2 linked regions of the Homo sapiens genome follow. The protein of the gene in region 1 interacts with the protein of each later gene in a pairwise test. Each region holds a gene or a part of one and is shown on either strand. Other genes may lie near its edges. The genes, in order: TIMM23 and SLC16A7.

What was found.
Region 2: the proteins of TIMM23 (region 1) and SLC16A7 interact in binary tests that used the Homo sapiens proteins (3 or more experiments, as listed by UniProt).

Annotation. Positions count from the first base shown.
Region 1 is NC_000010.11:45,980,616-45,990,247, reverse strand, and holds part of TIMM23 (mitochondrial import inner membrane translocase subunit Tim23), read right to left. Parts: intron 7,726-9,632; coding exon 7,632-7,725; intron 7,403-7,631; coding exon 7,318-7,402; intron 5,641-7,317; exon of another isoform or gene 5,437-5,640; intron 4,866-5,436; coding exon 4,807-4,865; intron 1,512-4,806; coding exon 1,401-1,511; intron 1-1,400. UniProt on the Homo sapiens protein: Essential component of the TIM23 complex, a complex that mediates the translocation of transit peptide-containing proteins across the mitochondrial inner membrane.
Region 2 is NC_000012.12:59,591,422-59,600,903, reverse strand, and holds the start of SLC16A7 (monocarboxylate transporter 2), read right to left. Parts: upstream 4,876-9,482; 5' UTR 4,668-4,875; intron 1-4,667. UniProt on the Homo sapiens protein: Proton-coupled monocarboxylate symporter. Catalyzes the rapid transport across the plasma membrane of monocarboxylates such as L-lactate, pyruvate and ketone bodies, acetoacetate, beta-hydroxybutyrate and acetate.

The sequences.
Region 1 (9,632 bases):
AGGAAGCTGAGATGGGAGAACTGCTTGATCCCAGGAGGTGGAGGTTGCAGTGAGCTGAGATCATGCCACTGCACTCCAGCCTGGGTGACACCTAGACTCCGTCTCAAAAAAGAAAAAAAAAAAAAAAAAAATTAAAAGTTGCCTTTGGGAAAAGGGAATTAAGGTGAGACGTATAGAACACTGTTGCACATCACTAAAATCTTTTAGATGTTAAAAAGATAAAAACCTTGACTTAAAAAATCATGTATGTGGATTAAACATCATTAAAATCTTTTAGATGTTAAGATAAAAACCTTGACTTAAAAAATCACGTATGTGGATTATTTTGATAAAAATAAAAATTAAGTAGCCAAAGATGTATCAACACAATAAAAAAGCTAAATTAGGCATTACTTGAATGTATGCTTCTAAACTAGTAAAACTTATCACAGAAGAGAATTATCTGACCCTTGACAGCAACACGTTGATCTCCCAGTAGAGTAAGATGATCATAGGAATAAGATGCTCTAAATTGACTTACAGGGAAGCCATTCCTGGGCTTTGACCTTGTGTGTGTCTTGTGATAGTTTAATATGCTGATGTCACAGGTCAAACTATTGTTTAAAACAAAACCAACAATTCTGAATATTCTATTGCTTAGTCTGTCCAAGATTAAAAAAACTAAACTAAAATGAATGAAAAATACAGAAAAGAATCTTATATTCTTAATGTCAAAAAACCACCATAAACCATATGATCCAAGAATTCCACTTCTGCACATATATCCAAAAAAAGAAAGAAGGACCTTGAAGAGATATTTGTACATCCATATTCGTAGCAGCATTATTCACAATAGCCAAAAGGTAGAAGCAACCCAAATATTCCTTGATAAAAGAACGCACATGCAAAATGTGGTATACATACACAGAATGAATATTATTTAGCTTTAAAAAGGAAGGGAATTCTGGCACATGCAACAACATGGATGAACCTTGAGGATATTATGCTACGTAAAATAAGCCAATCAAAAAAGGACAAATATTGTATGATTCTACTTATATGAGGTGCCTAAAGCAGCCAATTCAGAGACAGAAAGTGTAACATTATCAAGAGCTAAGGAAGTGGTAAATTGGGAGGCTTAATAGGTACAGAGTATCAGTTTTGCAAGATGAAAAAGTTCCAGAGATTGGTTATATAATCATGTGACTATAATACTAATGTACTGTATACTTAAAAATGGTTAAGATGGGTAAATCTTATGTTTATTTTACCACAATTAAAAACCAAACCAAACCAAAATAACCATAAAGTTAGAACACTAGATTATACTGCAACAGAGTGTAATTTCCTTGAAAACCATGAATTTTAAAAAGCGCACTTCAAGTGTATTAAGAGATGGCTCCCCATTCAACAGTACTCACCTGTACATTTATACAACATGCCTGTCATGGTTCCAGCTGCTACTGTGTTAAGGTCATCTTCTGCACCTCGTGTTTTCTCAATGATGACACCAAATGCACTATAGAGCAAAGCTAAAGAGGAAATGGAAGTGCTCAGTGACAAAACAGTGATAAAGTGTGATATTATGATATACATATATTGGTTTTCATCCATGGTTCCTAGCTCATAACTCCCATAGCCCTTCCTAAGTGACTAAAACAATCACTTGTTAAGGTATTTGTCCTTGGTTCTGGAATCAGCTTTGGAACAGCTTCAGAGGGACAAAGGTGAAGGTCTTTTGTTGTATTACTGGGGCACTTCAGGCCTCAGAAGCAGCCTCAGAAACAGAATCTCTCTCTCTGACCTTCTCCTGCCCTCCTTTCACCTACTCCCTTTTCTCCCCACAGCAGGACTCTAATCTTTCCCCACACCTTTCTGTCTTGGAACTGGCCATAAAGAAATTCTATGACCTACCTTGTCTGATTGCAGGCTGTAAGACCCCCATTTCAGAAAAGATCGTACCCCATACCCAGGAAGAAGAAATGCTGCACAGAAAGGCCAAGGGAGAATCTGGGCAGGCAGGCCTTGCTGGGTTTCTGTGCCCAGTCTATTAGTAGTAGAGCATGCCCTTTTTGTCCAATCACAGTTCTATAAGGTTGTCCATGCTTCAGTCATGCCTATCCAATCAATTTTCCACATGAGGCCCAAGTGGATGGGGTCGGAGGACTTTCTGGACAGCTGAACTCATGGGACTTGCAGGAAAGTGAGAAAGAACTCACCCACGTGTCAGGAGGCTAGTGCACCCCAACTCCAGTGAAATGAAAGCTCCTGCACTCAGGGCCCATCCAGGCCTCACCTTATGTATTCCTTGACTGGGCTATTTGTATCCTTTAAAAATATCCAGCCAGGTGTGGTGGCTCACAAAGTTTCTGTAATCCCAGCACTTTGGGAGGCCGAGGTGGGAAGATCACATGAGCCCAGGAGTCAGAGACCAGTTTGGGCAACAACATAGGGATACCCCCTTCTCTAAAAAAATTTAAAAAAAAATTAGTTGGTATGGTGGTGCATGTTGCCTGTAGTCCCAGCTCCTTGAAAGGCTGAGGTGGGAGGCTTGCTTAAGCCCAGAAGTCTAGGTTGCAGTGAGCTCCACTGCACTCTAGCATGGGTGACAGAGCAAGACCCTGTCTCAAAAAAAAAAAAAAAAAAAAAAAAATCTTTATAATAAATACGCAAATGTTAAGTATGTGTTCCCTCGAGTTCTGTGAGCCAATCCAATAAATTAATCAAACCCAAAGAGTGGGTTGTGGGAAACCCTGACAAAGCTGGTTGGTCAGAAGCACAGGTAAAATAACCTGGAGCTTGCTATCAGCATCAGAAGTATCCAAAGTGGGGCTCAGTTTTGTGGGACAGAGTGCTCAACCTGCTGATCTAATGCTATCTCCAGGCAGAAGTGAAACAGGTGGACACCCAACTGGTGTCCACTGCAAGAGAGATTACTTGGTATGTGGGGAAATATTCCCACATAACTGGTCACAGAACTATCCTATGTTGACTGTTGTAGTGTGAGAGCAGAGGAAAAACTGTTTTTTTTTTTTCAACACAAAAGTCAGTATGGCAATTATATTTAGAAAAATTTATCCAAAGATATACATGGAATGATCACTAGAACAGTTTCTAATAGCAAACACCTGGCAACAAATAAAATGCCCATCAAGAGCATTTGTACCATCTGAATTGATCCAGAGAGGGACTTTTCATATAATGGAATACTATACAGTCACTTAAAAACCAGAAGAATCATTTTCACTAATAAGTAAATCAGGGACATGTGCACATGGTACACGACTGACTGGCTATGCAGAGAAACGCCTGGAAGAATTCAGAAGAAACATCAATAGTAGCTATTTCTAGAAAGTACCGCTAGGAAGTCTCAGGAAGAATATTTAAAATTTTCATTTATATGCTACCCATAATTGCTATACTTCAGATTAAAGACACACACATACACACACACACACACACACGTATTTCTAGTATAAGAAAAAATAGATTAAAAAAAAAGTGAGGTTTGATTCTCACGTATTATAACACTAGCACCATTTCATTTTAAAGTATCTTCCCCCAAGCCATCCTTCTATGCTCTTGCAGATTCCTATCTGGAACGAATGTTAAACTTTTAAACTCTTTCTCAAAATTATAGCTACACTTGCCCCTTGCAACAATACACCGCGCTCAGCCTTACAACTCCTCTACTGCAGTATTTTTATACTTCTATGAAAGCTCATCTTCCTCTTCAACTTATTTAACTGAAACTGATCACGAGCAGAACACCCTTCTTGATCATACCACAATGGGTACACAGAGGGTGACCAGCCATTCTAGTTTGTCCAGGACTGTGGGGCGGGGTGGGCGGGGGGTGATTATTGGAACATAGTTTCTTGGACTTTTCTCTGACAGTCCTACGCAGACAAGGACAGCTGACTACTCTAGGTATACAAGCAATTAAAAGAAACAGAGCGGGGTGACTCTGTAGGAGGGTGGGAGGAATGCAGACATCAGCAACATATGAAAGCAGCCATCTCTTAGGATCCAAAGTGTGAAAACTAGCTTTACAGTGTGAAGATGTACTGCTTCCAAATTCTGTGACAAGGCAGGACCTTACCCTGCCATAACAAACGCTTTTTCTATGTTTTCAATGAGTTTTCTATGTCTTCCCCTCCTTAATCTGCCACAATTTAAATTGAGATTTTCAACTAAGTTCATACAGTAGGAAAATTTTGGATGTCAGGACATAAGCCATAAGAGATCTATTGTAAGTGATCAATCATTCATAAACAATATGGTATGAAAGCATAAGGCTCTGACTAAGCACTACTAAGTTACCTTTTGCCTAGAACTGCAAACGTTTTCATTATCTACAAGGAACCTATTCCAATTGTGGCAATTAGGTGCCTGAAATCTACTCAGGTAAACAGACTAATGAACCGGCTATTAAGAAAACATAGCAAGAGGGCTGGATTAATTTATCATGTATCACTACAGGACCTTGAACCTTGCCTAACATACAAAGCTCTTTACTTTGGACCTAAATTACCTGGATTTCATTTAAACATGATTTTATTGGGTGTTGTGCTTGGAAAGGAGAGTGTGCAGTGTCCAAAAGATTTTAAAAATTCAGCAATGGTATTCAGAACGGTATTAGCACCTGAGATTATTTCATAAGTTAGTTCATGGTCTTTCCCTAAGTAGTATCTACATTATGCATTGGAATGGGTTTAAACATAATTGTCTCATATCCTAGGACCAGAATATGGGTTGATCAAATTGTTCATGATATTTGTGCATTCTTTCTTTAACAATTTATTATCAAATGAGATCTCTACTTACCCAGAGAACCTAGAGTATTAGCCCAAAGTGCCCCTTGCCTAGTCACCATATTCAAAATCCTATCAGGGCAGAAAGAGAAAGAATCTGTATTTAGAATCATTATTTCTCTAGTAACCTTTAAAAACAATAATGGCTATTTAACATGTCTAGACCCAGGGCGCAAAGTTTTTTAAATTCTAAAATACATCTTAATATCTCCGATTTCAATAAGGATGGTTTTTACTCTACATAAGTGAAAATTAGGTTAAAACTTTCAAAACTTTAGGCAAAAGTCTTAAGGACTTTTATATAAGTCCTTAATAATAATAATAAGGAAAACTCTTATTATTAAATGTATAATATAATGAATACACATTAAATATATATAAGGCTTTGAATGACAGCCTGGAATGTATCTTACAGAGGTTTACAGAAACTAATCTATGTAAAAAATGCCACTGTTAACTATGGCGAGCTAGCTTCTAAAAGGTTCTTTTTGGGAGGGGAACATATGCTTAGAATGTTAAAGATAATCAAAGTAAAGAATATCAAAGTACAGAATATAAAGTAAAGAATATCAAAGTACAGAATATAAAGTAGAATTAAAGAGAAGGAATCAGCCATCTAACTAGAATACATGGGGAAAGCACCCTGTGTCTGCTCCTAGACTAGAACCAAGCAGCCAAGGTGAATGCTCAGCACACTCTCAAGGAAGCACAGTTCTGCCTTGCACCAGTGCCAGACACCACCAGAACAGTGATGGACGCAACTGGATGAAGAGAAGACATTCTTCTCCCAGCAGTGTAACATGATCCCAGGAATGGTTCTGTCCAGACAGCTGACTACTGCTGGAAATTATGGAAATACAGTAACAAAGAGTGAAGGAACTCATTCAGTTTAATTATTAAACGACTCAATTAATGTTCTACAGAAACAAAAATTTGTATTTTCTAAAAGATTGTTTTAAAAAATCAGTAATGTTTACAAACAGAAGTATATTGTTTCTAATTATGTTACATATTTACTAACATATTTTAAGTTCAGCCATCATTTTTTCATTTTTAACAAGCATTTTAATAACTTGTTTTAAGAAAGGAAGCAAGTTGTCTTTTCTAGGAGATCTACTTCCAAATTTGTATTTAATATGATATTGGGGTTTTTGTCTCAAAATAAGATGGGAGAGGAGAAGGAAATGGGATAGAACTGGCCATGGTTGATGGTTGTTGAGGATGCGTTATGGTTCATGTGTTCACTATGCTATGTATTTTGTCTACTTTTATATATTCAAAATTCCCCATAATACAAAAACTTAAAAATATTATTGAAGCGAGGGACAAGTAATAAAAATATTGAAGGATCTAGGCTGGTAAAGCATGGACAGAGATCCACACAGTAACAGGAATATAAAAAACTTAACAGGGCTAGGCGCAGTGGCTCACATCTGTAATCCCAGCAGTTTGGAAGGCTGAGGCAAGAGGATCACCTGAGCTCAGGAGTTTGAGAACAGCCTGAGCAATACAGTGAGACCCCGTCTCTACAAAAAATTAAAAAATTAACTGGGCATGGTGGCATGTGCCTGTAGTCCCAGCTACTCGGGAGGCTGAGGTGGGAGGATCACTTGAGCCCAGGAGGTCAAGGCTACAGTGAGCTGTGATGGCGCCATTGCACTCCAGCTCAGGCAACACAGCAAGGCCCTGTCTCTCAAAAAACCACACAATTTAACAGGCCTTCCAGTTTCCCATGGTCTAATTCTAGCACATCTGGTGCCATCTGCTGGCTGAACAATATGAAAGGAAGATGGAGTTTAAAGTGTCCTAAAACAAAACAGTAGCCATCGAAGAATACATACTCATGATTCCACTTACATGAAGCATAAAAATGGGCAAAACTAAACATATTGTTTAAGGAATATCAAGAGGGACTGGCCATGTTTACTTCTTAAGTTGGGTGAAAACATACTTTCCGATCCTTTTAACTGTACTTTCCCTTCTCTGTAACTTCAAGTTCTAACAGAAAACTGTGTCTTATCCTTTTGGAATTAACTCTAATTCTAAAAATTTTATTTAAAATGTATCTGGCTCATCATTTCGGAAACATAAAGTCAAGACAGTAAGAACTTCAAGTTAAATGATGGCAGCTTGAGCCATCACTCTCATGAGCTGCTTATTCTTCATTACCATTTCCTATGGATCTGCATGCCCCCAAACAATCCAAAATTCCCATTAGCAACTCAACAATTTGAAAAGCAAGTCACATAGGGTTGGAGAATGTAACAGGTGCAGCTGAGAAGTCAGGCTGGCATAGCACTAGCTGACTGAGGGACACTGATTAAAAAAATCACTCCTTTTTAAAAGCTTAGAGTCAGTAATCTGATTCCTTAGTTGCTTTTATTTTGATTAAGATTAAAAAACAAAGACAAAAAAGCACATAACTATGCTAACCATCTGTAATCTCAAGGTTGTACTCATCAAACCAATACAACAGAGCTTAATATTCAAGTATCACTACATCAGATGGTTACAAGAGACTTACTGTACATTTCTTGGTTTGGACCAGGCCATGTTCTGGGTTTCCTTCAATCCTAGCCGAAGACCATTCATTGCACCAAACGCAGCCCCTGGTAAATCATAACAATTCACCCAGATAAAGACAGCTTTATATTAAAAAAACAAACTCAAATCTGCATAACTACACTTCTGATTCTTTTTCATTTTTATTTAATAGAAAAAGACAAATGTAAATATTAAAAAAAAAACCCTGAAACCAACATTCTAATTGCTTTTGATTTTACGCACCCTCAACTACTTGAACTGAGCACTCTTGAGAAAAAAGTATGTAACACTCACCTGTCATGCAACATCCTCCAATCGTAAAGAAGGCCAGCTCAAATCTGCCCCGGGTTTTATTAGCTCCGGTAGGTAAAATAAACTCATCTGTATCCTAAAAGGATAATAATGAAAACCAAGCTGAGTGTCCCTCAAGACACAAATCTTGTAAAGTTGCCTTTTTAACATTTCAAAGTAGTTTTTCACAGAAAATAAACCTTAAATTAACTCAAACCTATACTTAAACAAAAATAAAACTTTCTGCAGCAGTAACACCTAAATCAAAGTGAAATGAAATACGAAACATAGTTCTTAGAAGGGAGTCTCATTAAAGACTTTGTTTCCTTCAAAACGTAAATCTGATAGATTTGTGCAAAAGTGTTTAGAAAGGACAGCTCTAGAGAAAGGAACACTGAAAGCTATGAGAAGAACAGAACAGACAATCAGTCTGGAAGAAACAAATAACTTTCATTCTGTAGCAGCTATTTATTGTGCATTTTTCTATGTATAAAGCCAAATGTTCACAAACATGAGCAAAAACTAATAAAGTACAACAGTTTGGATCAATTATGCAAGGGCAAATGACCCCCTTTAATAATTCTTATCTGTTTAAGGAGTATATATTCCTTTGATACTCTCAGAAAGCTATAGACCCTATTTCTAGTAATTGCATACACAAAATGTGGCATGAACCCCTGGAAGGTCATCCAAAATACTAAGACTGAGAAATGACACTCTTAAGAGCAAAATATGGTTACCAATTTTGAAGAGTCAATGCACCTTTATGAAAAACACACTCAAAAAAACAAACAAAATTTTATCACCATGTTGGATTAAAAAAATAAAATCACACTCATTTTTGGCAAGCTTTCCAACCAAAGATGGTTAAAATAAGCCTCTAATGGCTAGGTCACACCCTTGGCAAAAAGACACATAGTGTGTTACATTTAACATAGTAAAGACCACTGACAATTAACATTCTCCTACATCCTTGTGGCAAATACTGAACGTTGATTCAGAAAATTGTATTCCTAATCAGAAAACTGTGGTTCTGCCTTGGTTTTTTCTTTCTGGCATGTGCACACATCCTCACCAAAAATTGCAAAAGTAAACAAACACATCCACTCTCATCACATAAGAATGGTCTGTTGGGCAATAATAAAATCTGAATAGATCCCATGTCATAATATAATTGTATAGAGTTTTATAAATTTTGGGTACTTCAACTTTTAAATAATGACTTAGTATTAAACTGCTTTTTGTTTGAGTTTTTAGAAATGCTAGATTCAATGTGGTAAGGTAAATAATTATTCTTCAGTCTCAGGCCATGGTTGCTGAGAAGAAAAAAAAAATTATCCTTCAATACAGAAACAGATTACTAATTAAGAATAGAAAACTTGGCCAGGCACGGTGCCTCCCGCCTGTAATCTCAGCGCTTTGGGAAGCCGAGTCGGGTGGACTGCCAGAGCTCAGGAGTTCGAGGCCACCCTGGGCAACATGGTGAAACCCCGTCTCTACTAAAATACAAAAAATTAGCTGGGCGTGGCAGTGTGCGCCTGTAGTCCCAGCTACTTGGGAGGCTGAGGCAGGAGAATTGCTTGAACCCGGGGGTGGAGGTTGCAGTGAGCTGAGATCACGCCACTGCACTCCAGCCTGGGTGACAGAGCGAGACTCCATCTCCAAAAAAAAAAAAGAAAAGAAAACTTAAAAAAAAAAAAAAGGCTGTGATGAACATTATCAAGCAAGCAAAAGTGCACGTTAGCACCAACTCATTCTCCTGCTAGTATCAACTGAAAAATATAACAAGGGTTGCAAGCAAACGTCCATCAATTCACACACAAACAAGGTTGTTATCAAAGTATGTTAATATATTGAATGTATAGAAGATTTACTAAAAACCTCTTGTTAAACCTGTTCTGCTGACACTCCAGGACACTAGTATTACTAAAATCCCAAGTACCAGAGCTTGCTGACATGGAAGATAAATCCAAGAATGGGTATCAATGTACTTGCTGGGGGAAA
Region 2 (9,482 bases), on another chromosome or scaffold:
AGACTTCAATGAGTATTAATGAAAACATTTGCGGGAGTTTTAGTATTAGGTCAGAAAAATTATTTCCAAAAATACTTGCTTCATTTATCAACACTGATATTTGTGAATATGTTGAAATTGTCTATGGTGCACCCAAGTCCCAGTTAGTCCAGCTCCAGCTGGACTAGTTTTATTATAGTCAGCTCCAATTTGTTTAATTTTCTCCCACATTTTTAATGATTACAGTTGATATATAAAGACCCTCCACTTATTTACTAATTACCAAATACGTGTGATAAGTGTTATTTATTCCTCTCGACAATGGTCCATTTTAGGCTAGTCTCTCATATTATGATTTTAAACAGCTGGATCTCTCACATAGGTAGACTCAGCCCCTGGATTCACCATTTATAGCAGCAACTGAGAAAATGAAGCTTTCTCACAAGTTAAAAAAAAAAAAAAGTTCCATTATTCACTGAGAGCTAGTGTGCAGATGTTTCCCAAGATATTTCTTAATCACTTTGATCCAAACAGTTTTGAGAAAGCCTGTGACAAACCAGGATGACTTCTCAAAGGGAGTCCACTTAATGGTTTATTATGCAATTCAACTTTGTTGTGCCATCTAATGGCAAGTTTGGCATTTCAGAGTTCCCAAAAATCTGTTAAAAATAAGCCAGTGATGCTTATGATAAACTAAAAAACATAAAGCCAAATATTTAATACCTAAAAGTAGTTATTGAGTTATTTCTATGTATGTGCTCAGCACAGTGCTATTTCACAGATATTATCTCATTTAATGTTTACAACCAATATACAAAATTGGTTACTATTCTATTTTTACACATGAAGAAACCGAGACTTAAAGAGGTCTAGCAACTTGTCTTTGTTGATAAGTGGCAAAGCTAAAATCAAAACCCAGACAGGCTGGACTTCAGAGCCCCTCGTCTGCCCTGTCCTGTCCCAAGCAGCAGCTCCACAGAGGTTCCAAGATGAATCAGATATACCATCTACTCTCAAAGACCATGTAGCCCAGGAAGAGAGATAGGATGCCTTCCCAAATAATTGTAATTCAAGGTAAAATATAAGAATCAGCCTAAGAGAAGCCCAGATCAAGTTACGAAGTAGTTCAGATGAACACAGATTACTTCAAGATGTGGAAAACAGGAGGGTACTTTTTATTTGGGATGAGTTGAAGGGAGGAGGGGAACAAAGGGCAATAACAGAATGTAATTATTCTTTGCCGCATGCCATTCTATTTATCAGGCACAGTATAAAACAGCTTATATTTGTTATCGTCTTTGGTGTTCAGAACAACAATACAAGTACTACCACAACATTGCATAAGACAAAGCCAGCCAGTGGCTTAACTAAAATTTAAATCCAGTGCCCCTGCATTATGGTCTGCCCTTTTAATTTCTTCCTTCTTTTTTTTTCCTGGTCCACCTTGAGTAGGTCACTCTTTGATGTTTGCACTTCATGGGCACCTTTTGCTAATTTGTCAAACCAAAGAGAATATTTTCCTATTCTGCATAAATGAGCATCATAAACTAGATGATTAGATGCAAGACAAGGAAAAGGAATCCTCAAAAGAGCCTCAACTATTGTGTTCTCAGGGCAGAGTTCATGCTGGATTTCCTGCCAGATTCAGTGTTGAAGGCGGGAGACACTTGGACTTGCTAATTTTTATTTCCTCCTCTTCCTCCTTCCCTCTAGTTCTGCTTCCCTCCCTCTTTCCTTCTTTCTATAATCAGTTGTTCTGAACCATGACATGCCAGACACTGTACTGGGCTATGGAGAAAACAACAGGTAAGGTCTTTGCTCTTATTTAGCTTCATGCAAGGCAGAAGCTATATGACACAGTGGTTAAAGCCAAACAGATCGCATCGGTGCTTGCCCCAGCTCAACCACTTACTAACTGTACCAGCTGAATAAGCTATGAAACTTTCTGGGCATAAATTCTTTTTTCTGTAAATATGGATATGGACAGATCCACCTCAAATGGTTGCTACATGCTATCAGACAGTAGTAGCACAGTGCCTGGAATATGGTGAGCATTACAGAGTTGTCATTATAGTTATTATATACTACAGTTACTTTATACTCTTAGGAGTGAGTGGATTGGTTTGCCCAAGGTGTAGTAGAAACTGCAACTCAAACTCTTCTCTCAAATAATGGAAATCAATTCATTGACAAAGATAATCTTCAGAGAAGGATCATCCTGCCCTCATAACATGAAGAAAAATCCTTCATTACCTGTTTTTATTCATTAAGGATCACTATTAATGGACAAAAAATGGGCTGAATACAGGTTCCTGAGAAAAGACATTCTTCTCAAATTTGCCTTTTAGCAGATCTTACCAACATTTCTTACAACTGTGGAGTTCCTTTCAAGTTACTTGGATATATGTTTCTTCCATCAAGAGGAGAAAAAAAATGGACTAAAAGGCAAATGGGATACAAGAAAGATTAACCTGAATGACTGACTATATGAGAACTTCTTGAAAGCAGAATTACAGCCTCATTCATCTTGGCAACCCTGGTAGGGTGTCTAGACTGATTATAGGGGCTCAAATATAGCCCGTCTGTATTCTAGGTACTTACCACACACTTCATTCTTCCCAATATCACTTCAGAGTGGGTACCACCAATCTCATTTTATAGACAAGAAAAAGGTAAAGCCCAGATTGTTAAACAATTACTCAACCTTACAAAAGTGCAGAACCAATCTGTTCTAAAGTTAATTCCCTTTTTCCATGTGAATGTCTCAAAAATGTTTGGTGGATGAATACAGAATTAAAAGCAAATTCTGGAGATGCCTTTTATTTCAGATCCGTGATCCAGGAATATGACTCCAGACAAGGGAGGTTTATTTAGGTAATGTTGCTCTCCTTCCCTTTAAAAGAGCTCAAAGCCAAAAATATAAGCCAGACATTATCAAAGAGCAAATGAATGTCTAGAAATAAACTGAGCATTTATAGAAGGATACACTAATTTGAACATCGGGAAACAGATGTTAAAATTTCAGATCACTTATTATTCAAACATGCCTTGGGGGGAAAAAAGTAATATGTAACTGCAAACTGTTGTTGTATTTGCAAAAAATAGTTTCTGAGTTTGTAAGTTGTTACACAATACACTGAGTTTCTTACGGTTGTAATCTTTCCTTTCCACTGAGATCATTCAGTCCCTCACTTGGATTGCTTTAAATGTAATCTGCTCAGTCAGAAGTAGAACCTGGAGTTAGGATTGCTTCACCAGAGCTAAATATTAGTCACTTTGCTCAACCCTCATTTGCCCTCTGCTGTCCCCACCCAACTCTCATTTTTCAGCCACACTCCACCAAATGCATACTTAGTGCTTGTGGTTCCAGTAACACAACACATTCAAGCTAACCTGTCTGTGGAAAGTTTGCAACCCTCTGAGTTCAGACTGGGGTTAGCCATGAAGCATGGGGTGACAGGAAATGGCATCCAGTAGTCACTCTTTCCTCTGGGTCCAGTCTTTTTCCCATCACTTTCATCATTGTCCGCTATTTTATTCCTCTGCCGCATCTCCTTTGGGACCCAAGAGGGAAGGAGGACACGAAATAATACAGGAAAGGAAATCAAAAAACAATTGTAGAGAAACCACTCCTCGTTTCCTCTTCTATGTCTCGTGTGTGTGTGTGTGTGTGTGTGTGTGTGTGTGTGTGTGTGTGTGTGTAAAATTTTAATTTCCCTGGAATTGGAACTACAGAAGTCCCTCCTCAGCCCTACCGGGAAAGTGGCACTGGGCACGACCGCCCTTTCCAAGGCAGTCTGCAATCCTTTTCGCGGAAGTAGAGGAGAAAAGGGGGTGGAGAAGGGCGCCGCGATGCAGCATCCGCTGAGAAAACAGGCAGTTCGCACGTGAGCGGGCTCGCAGCCTGTGGCGCCACCTGACCGGGCCTGGCGCCCCCAATGTGGTGCAGTGGCCCAGCAAGACCAGAAGGCTCAGGCCCTCCTGAACCCTTGCCAAGTCAGAGGTCCCTTTCTGCCTGGGCTCAGGCCTCGCCCGCATATAGTTTTCCATCTGCTTCCACCCCTGCCATCCTTCCTGGGGACCAAAAATGAAGAAAGACAACCCCCCCATCCCCCGGTATTTCGTCTTCCCCTCACAGCCTCTTCCTGTCCTGATCATCTGCTCAAAGAGAAGACGTTCTCTCCACACACTCCACCCCCGCCTCCACCTTCTGCGGCAATGAAGCCACGCCACCCTAGGGGGCTCGGGGGCCGGATGCTGGCGGGGCGCGCACTAGAGACACGCCGCACTGGAAGCAGCCCTCGGAGTCCCGTGAGCCAGGGAGACTGGGGTGCACCGCGCCACGCTGAGTCTCGGTGTAAAAGCCGAGAGCGTGAGCACCTCCTGGCCGAAAGCACGCGAGGCGCTCCTTGCCCAGGACCCCGCGCGCCCCCTCAGTTCCCGGGCAGCTGTCGGCGCGCACTGGCTGACGCGAGCTCTGCTCCCGCGGCCGCTTCGGGATTTTTTTGTCTATATAAGGGCTCGCTGGCCAACTCTGCGTTGGCACGTTTGTCACAGGCTGGCCATTATTTGCACACACGCGTGCGGCTCCGCGGGCAGCTCGGGTCGCAGACGCAGGCTCGCCCTCCTCTTAGCCGGCACCTCCTCCTCCTCCTCCTCCTCTCCCCTCCCTCCCCAGCTGTACTTACTTTATCTGGTCTCTGGCGCAGGGTGGGCGCTGCAGCCCTCCGTTCCCAGCAAACCGCAGCCGATTCGCCTCGCTGTCAACGGGTGAATGGAATTATTTATTTATTTATGGCCCCTGACGTGTCCTCGCCCGCCACAGCCAGCGGAGAAGGAGGCGGTGGCGGGAAGGGGAGGCGCGGCTGCTGAACGCCCTTGTGGGTGCGGAGGAGCGCGCGCCAGGGGTGGGGGCCGGACAGGCTGCGGTGGAGGCCGGCCCGGGGGGTGGTGGGGGGGAGCCGCCTCCCGGTGCCTGGAGACCGACTGAGCATGCTCCAAGCGGCTGTCAAAGCTATAGGCACTTTCTCTATCGCTCGGGGCACTCCACTTCGGATTTTAGTTTTGACCAAGGAAGAAAGCCAAAAGGCAGGTAGATCTGTCTTTCCAGATGGGTCGTAACTTGCTGTATCCGAAGTACTCTGTAGCCTGACCTAGAAGACAGATGTGCGGTAGCTCTGTGCAACCCAAGCATGGGAGAGGAAAGCATGCAAAAAAAGAAGAGTCTGGCCGAATGCAGGGAGAATAGGAGATCCTCATTGTGAGCTTGCAGGGAAAGTGTTGAGCCATTTTTCAACTGAGGCCTTTTTGGGAGAAAGAGGTAGGGCACTGTTGGAGATTAGACTCACCAACCAAATCACTTCACGGAAAAAAATATAATTGACACCATAGGAGGAAGGACATAGAAAACAGCACCAAAAAACATTAAAAATAAGAAGGATTTTTTTTCAAATCATTTATAATTCCTTTCATTTTTAATTTCTCAAATTACTTAGTTCTTCAAACCAGCATTTAGTTATTTGACAACGAATAGTGCTAGAGATAATGGTAATTCTGCTGTCATTGGTTTGGTCTCTTCCCCTGTCTAAAATGTGCTTCTTGGTAAAACTGGAAAGAGGAAGGGCTGGAAGAGAACATTTAAGTAACCCCATAGATTGGGTTTCTTTAATATCTTTAAGTTAAATTGCCACTTTAGAGAAAAAGAAACTATCCAAAAGAATAATTGTAGGTTTTGGCTTGACAAGTCCTATTGCAGTTTGTCTACCAGTTTAGCTAGCTTTCTCCTCCTTGATTTCACAATCATTTTAAGGTGTGTTCTATGATTCTTCACATTTTACGAATTTATAAAAAGAGTTAAGTCATTTGGGTAAATTCACATTGTCTTTGCCACAGCTAGTCTGTTGTAATGGACGAAATTTGAATTTCAATTTCTGTAGCTATGAAATAAAAGTAATATCAATCGTGTTGATTTCATAAGATTTAAGTGAAATAATATACATGAAGTGGCTGGTAGGCATAATACAAGATGAAAAAATAATCGTGATTAATAACATCAAAATTACTGGAAGATAATTTTATTGAAAGAATGATATTTGAAAATGAAAAAAAGGCAGAAAATTACAGAAAGGATTTTATATTTTTAAGCTAAAAATGCTTAAATAGACATTTGTATAAGACATAATAGGCCTTTGATAATGATGAAATGTCTAGCAGTGACTATAAACACTTCATTTAATTAAAAAAAGTTAAACATTTAAAAGAAACAACATAAAGGCACATTTCAAGGTCATAGTCTTGAGTGTTTGCTATTGATATTTTTCCTGCTCATTCATCACTTTTATTTCCTGTCAAAGAAGAGGAAGAAGAAAGACCATATGCTTTCTGAATTTTGATCCTATTCTCCCTTTTCCTTCTCTTTGATTTTTCTTTTTTGTTGTTTTTTTCTTATAGTCCCATGTTCTTGACCTGTTTAACCTATTGCTGAATGCCAAACATCACTACTTATAGCATGATATCGTAACCTTCTTTTTAAGTCTTGTTTTTTCAACAATTAAAACTCTGGATCTAATTTACCTACTGTCACAGAGTTAGTATTTGGGAACTCATTTCTAAATTGCTTTGTTGTGATAGCTAGGTATGTTATGTAAAATTTGATTGGACTAGAAAGGTATCTGAAAGGAGGGAGAATCAGCTAAGAATAAATTCAGCCAGTTTATCCTATGACTTACAGTTTAATATTGTTAAGAAATTGAGAAAAAAATACAATTTAGGGAAAAAATAAGCCATATGATTAGAACTTGGAATGCTCTGGTAAAATGTTTGCCTTGATTTATATTCATAAGCTGAAATAACAGTGGGAAAAACAAATAGCAATACACTTAGCATTCTAGCAACTCATATTCCACAGATGAGCAAACTGTGAATACGTACATCACATATATACTCATGAAGTCCACATGTCTTTTACTATATACCCACATCCTTGTGGTTTAGGTTCTTTCTCCCTTCTTCATTCCTCAGTCATACACAATCTTCTCACATTTTTCTGTCTTTTATCATTCACTGCCCTCTTTTCCATATCAAACTTGTCTAAACCTTTTTTCCTCCTTTAATGCCCAGCAAATATATCATCACTTCTATAGCATTTTAAGGATTCTTTGTTAACAAATAAGGGTTAAGTTCATCTTTCTCTGTGATCCTGCCCATAGAAAATGATTTAGGCCTCTATCTGGGGCATTTTGTTTCAGCTTCACATATGACTATATTATAATATGATTTTTGTTTCTGTAGCCCCAATATATTAGGCTATTTGAAAGTAGAGATGACATTTTATTCATCTCTGGGATTGTCACAGGCATTTGAACCAGAGTGACTCCATCTTGAGTAAGGCCTGGGTAAAATGAGGCTGAGACTTATTGGGCTGCATTCCCAGGAGATTAAGGCATTCTTAGTCACAGAATAAGATAGGAGGTTGGCACAAGATACAGGTCATAAAGACCATGCTGATAAAACAGGCGGCAGTAAAGAAGCCAGCTAAAACCCACCAAAACCAAAATGGAGACGAAAGTGACCTCTGGTCCTCCTCACTCCTCATTATGTGCTAATTACAATGCATTAGCATGCTAAAAGACATTCCCACCAGTGCCATGACAGTTTACAAATGCCATGGTAAGGTCAGGAAGTTACCCCATATGGTCTAAAATGGGGAGAAACCCTCAGTTCCCAGAATTTCCCACCCCTTTCCCAGAAAACTCATGAATAATCCATCTCTTGTTAACATATAATCAAGAGGTAATAATAAGTATAAGCAGCGGAGCAGCCCATGCTGCTACTCTGCCTATGGTGTAGCCATTTTTTTGTTCCTTTACTTTCCTAGTACTCCTGCTTTCATTTATAGACTCATCCCAAATTATTTCTTGCATGAAATCCAAGAACCCTCTCTTGGGGTCTGAATCAGTACCCCTTTCGGGTAACAGAATCATCTATCATGCAGCACAAATCGTTGCAGATAGAAAATAGTAACGTTTGCCAAATGAAGAAAAGAGATGACAGTGTGGCTGTAGGCAACAGATATGTGGTAGAAGCTATTGGTGCTCACAATATCTATGATCTGCCTGGCTCCACACTTCCTGGCTTTCCTTACAGTTATATTGGGACCATGCAACTATGTAGTTCTAAAACAGTATGAATGGAAGTGACATGTGTAATTTCTGGTAAAGGGAGTTAAGACCCAGTGTACCTCCTTCATCACTCCCTTTCCCTGCCATAGTACCATGTTTCTGATGAACTAGCTACAAAATGGAATCTCTGAAAAAGAAAGAAAGACTGCTTGAATTGCACTGTACTTTGTGTGAGCAAGAGACCATTGTTTTAAGCCTTGGAAATTTCAGGCTCTATTTGTCATGGGAACAAAACCTAGCCTATTCTGACCAATATAAGATATTACTGAAAAAGACAATAAGTCAGCCAGGCGTGGTGGCTCATGCTTGTAATCCCAGCACTTTGGGAGGCCAAGGCAGGTAGATCACCTGAGGTCAGAAGTTCAAGACTAGCCTAGCCAACATGGTGAAAACCCATCTCAACTAAAAATACAAAAAAAAAAAAAAAAAATTAGCCAGGTGAGGTGGTGGGCACCTGTAATCCCAGGTACTTCGGGAGGCTGAGGCAGAAGAATCGCTTGAATCCGGGAGGCAGAGGTTGCAGTGAGCCAAGATCGCAACACTGCACTCCAGCCTGGGCAGCAAGAGCAAAATTCCGTCTCGAAAAAAGAAATTGTAAATCATAAAGGCATAAAATCCCCAATGAAACATTGAACTTTTGAAAGTGCACTAATGTGTCCTTAAGTCAAAACTAAAAATATAGTCTCATGACCCCAAAATTCATATAATAGCCTTTTCAGAGTAAGACTGTGAGATTAAATTAAGGGTGTGTGTGTTTATAAACTACACACAATAGATTTGTTATAGCTAAGTACAAAAGACCAGATGTCCCAATGCTCCCCTCAACTTGGGTGAAAACAAATGTACACCTGCCTTCAAGTGGCAACATACTATGGTTGAGATTGTAGCTGGCTAGCAGCTGTGAATATGATTGCTGTGACCTGGTTTCACAGATTATACAAACTATAGAAATATATCTCCACTACTTCTAGATTTAAATCTTGCGTATATCTATATAGGCTACTTTGGAAATATCTTCTATGAAAAACTCCCATAGGATTTTGGGGAATGACAATCTAGTCCGATTCAACAAAGCATATAAAAGGGGAATCAATTGCATTGGCATTGCTGTATGGTATGCCTTTAAATAATAGCACACAAGAATCTTTGGTTTAAAACAAAATGGGTTTTTTGGCTCCAAAAATCTCTTAACGGATTATGTATTAAAAAACTTGTTTGTTGGGGTATTTTTCTAAATTTACATTTTATCAATTATTATCTGTAAACTAAACTTAATGGATTCTGGGTGTTTTATAGATGCTTTACCACGTAAATATTCTGATT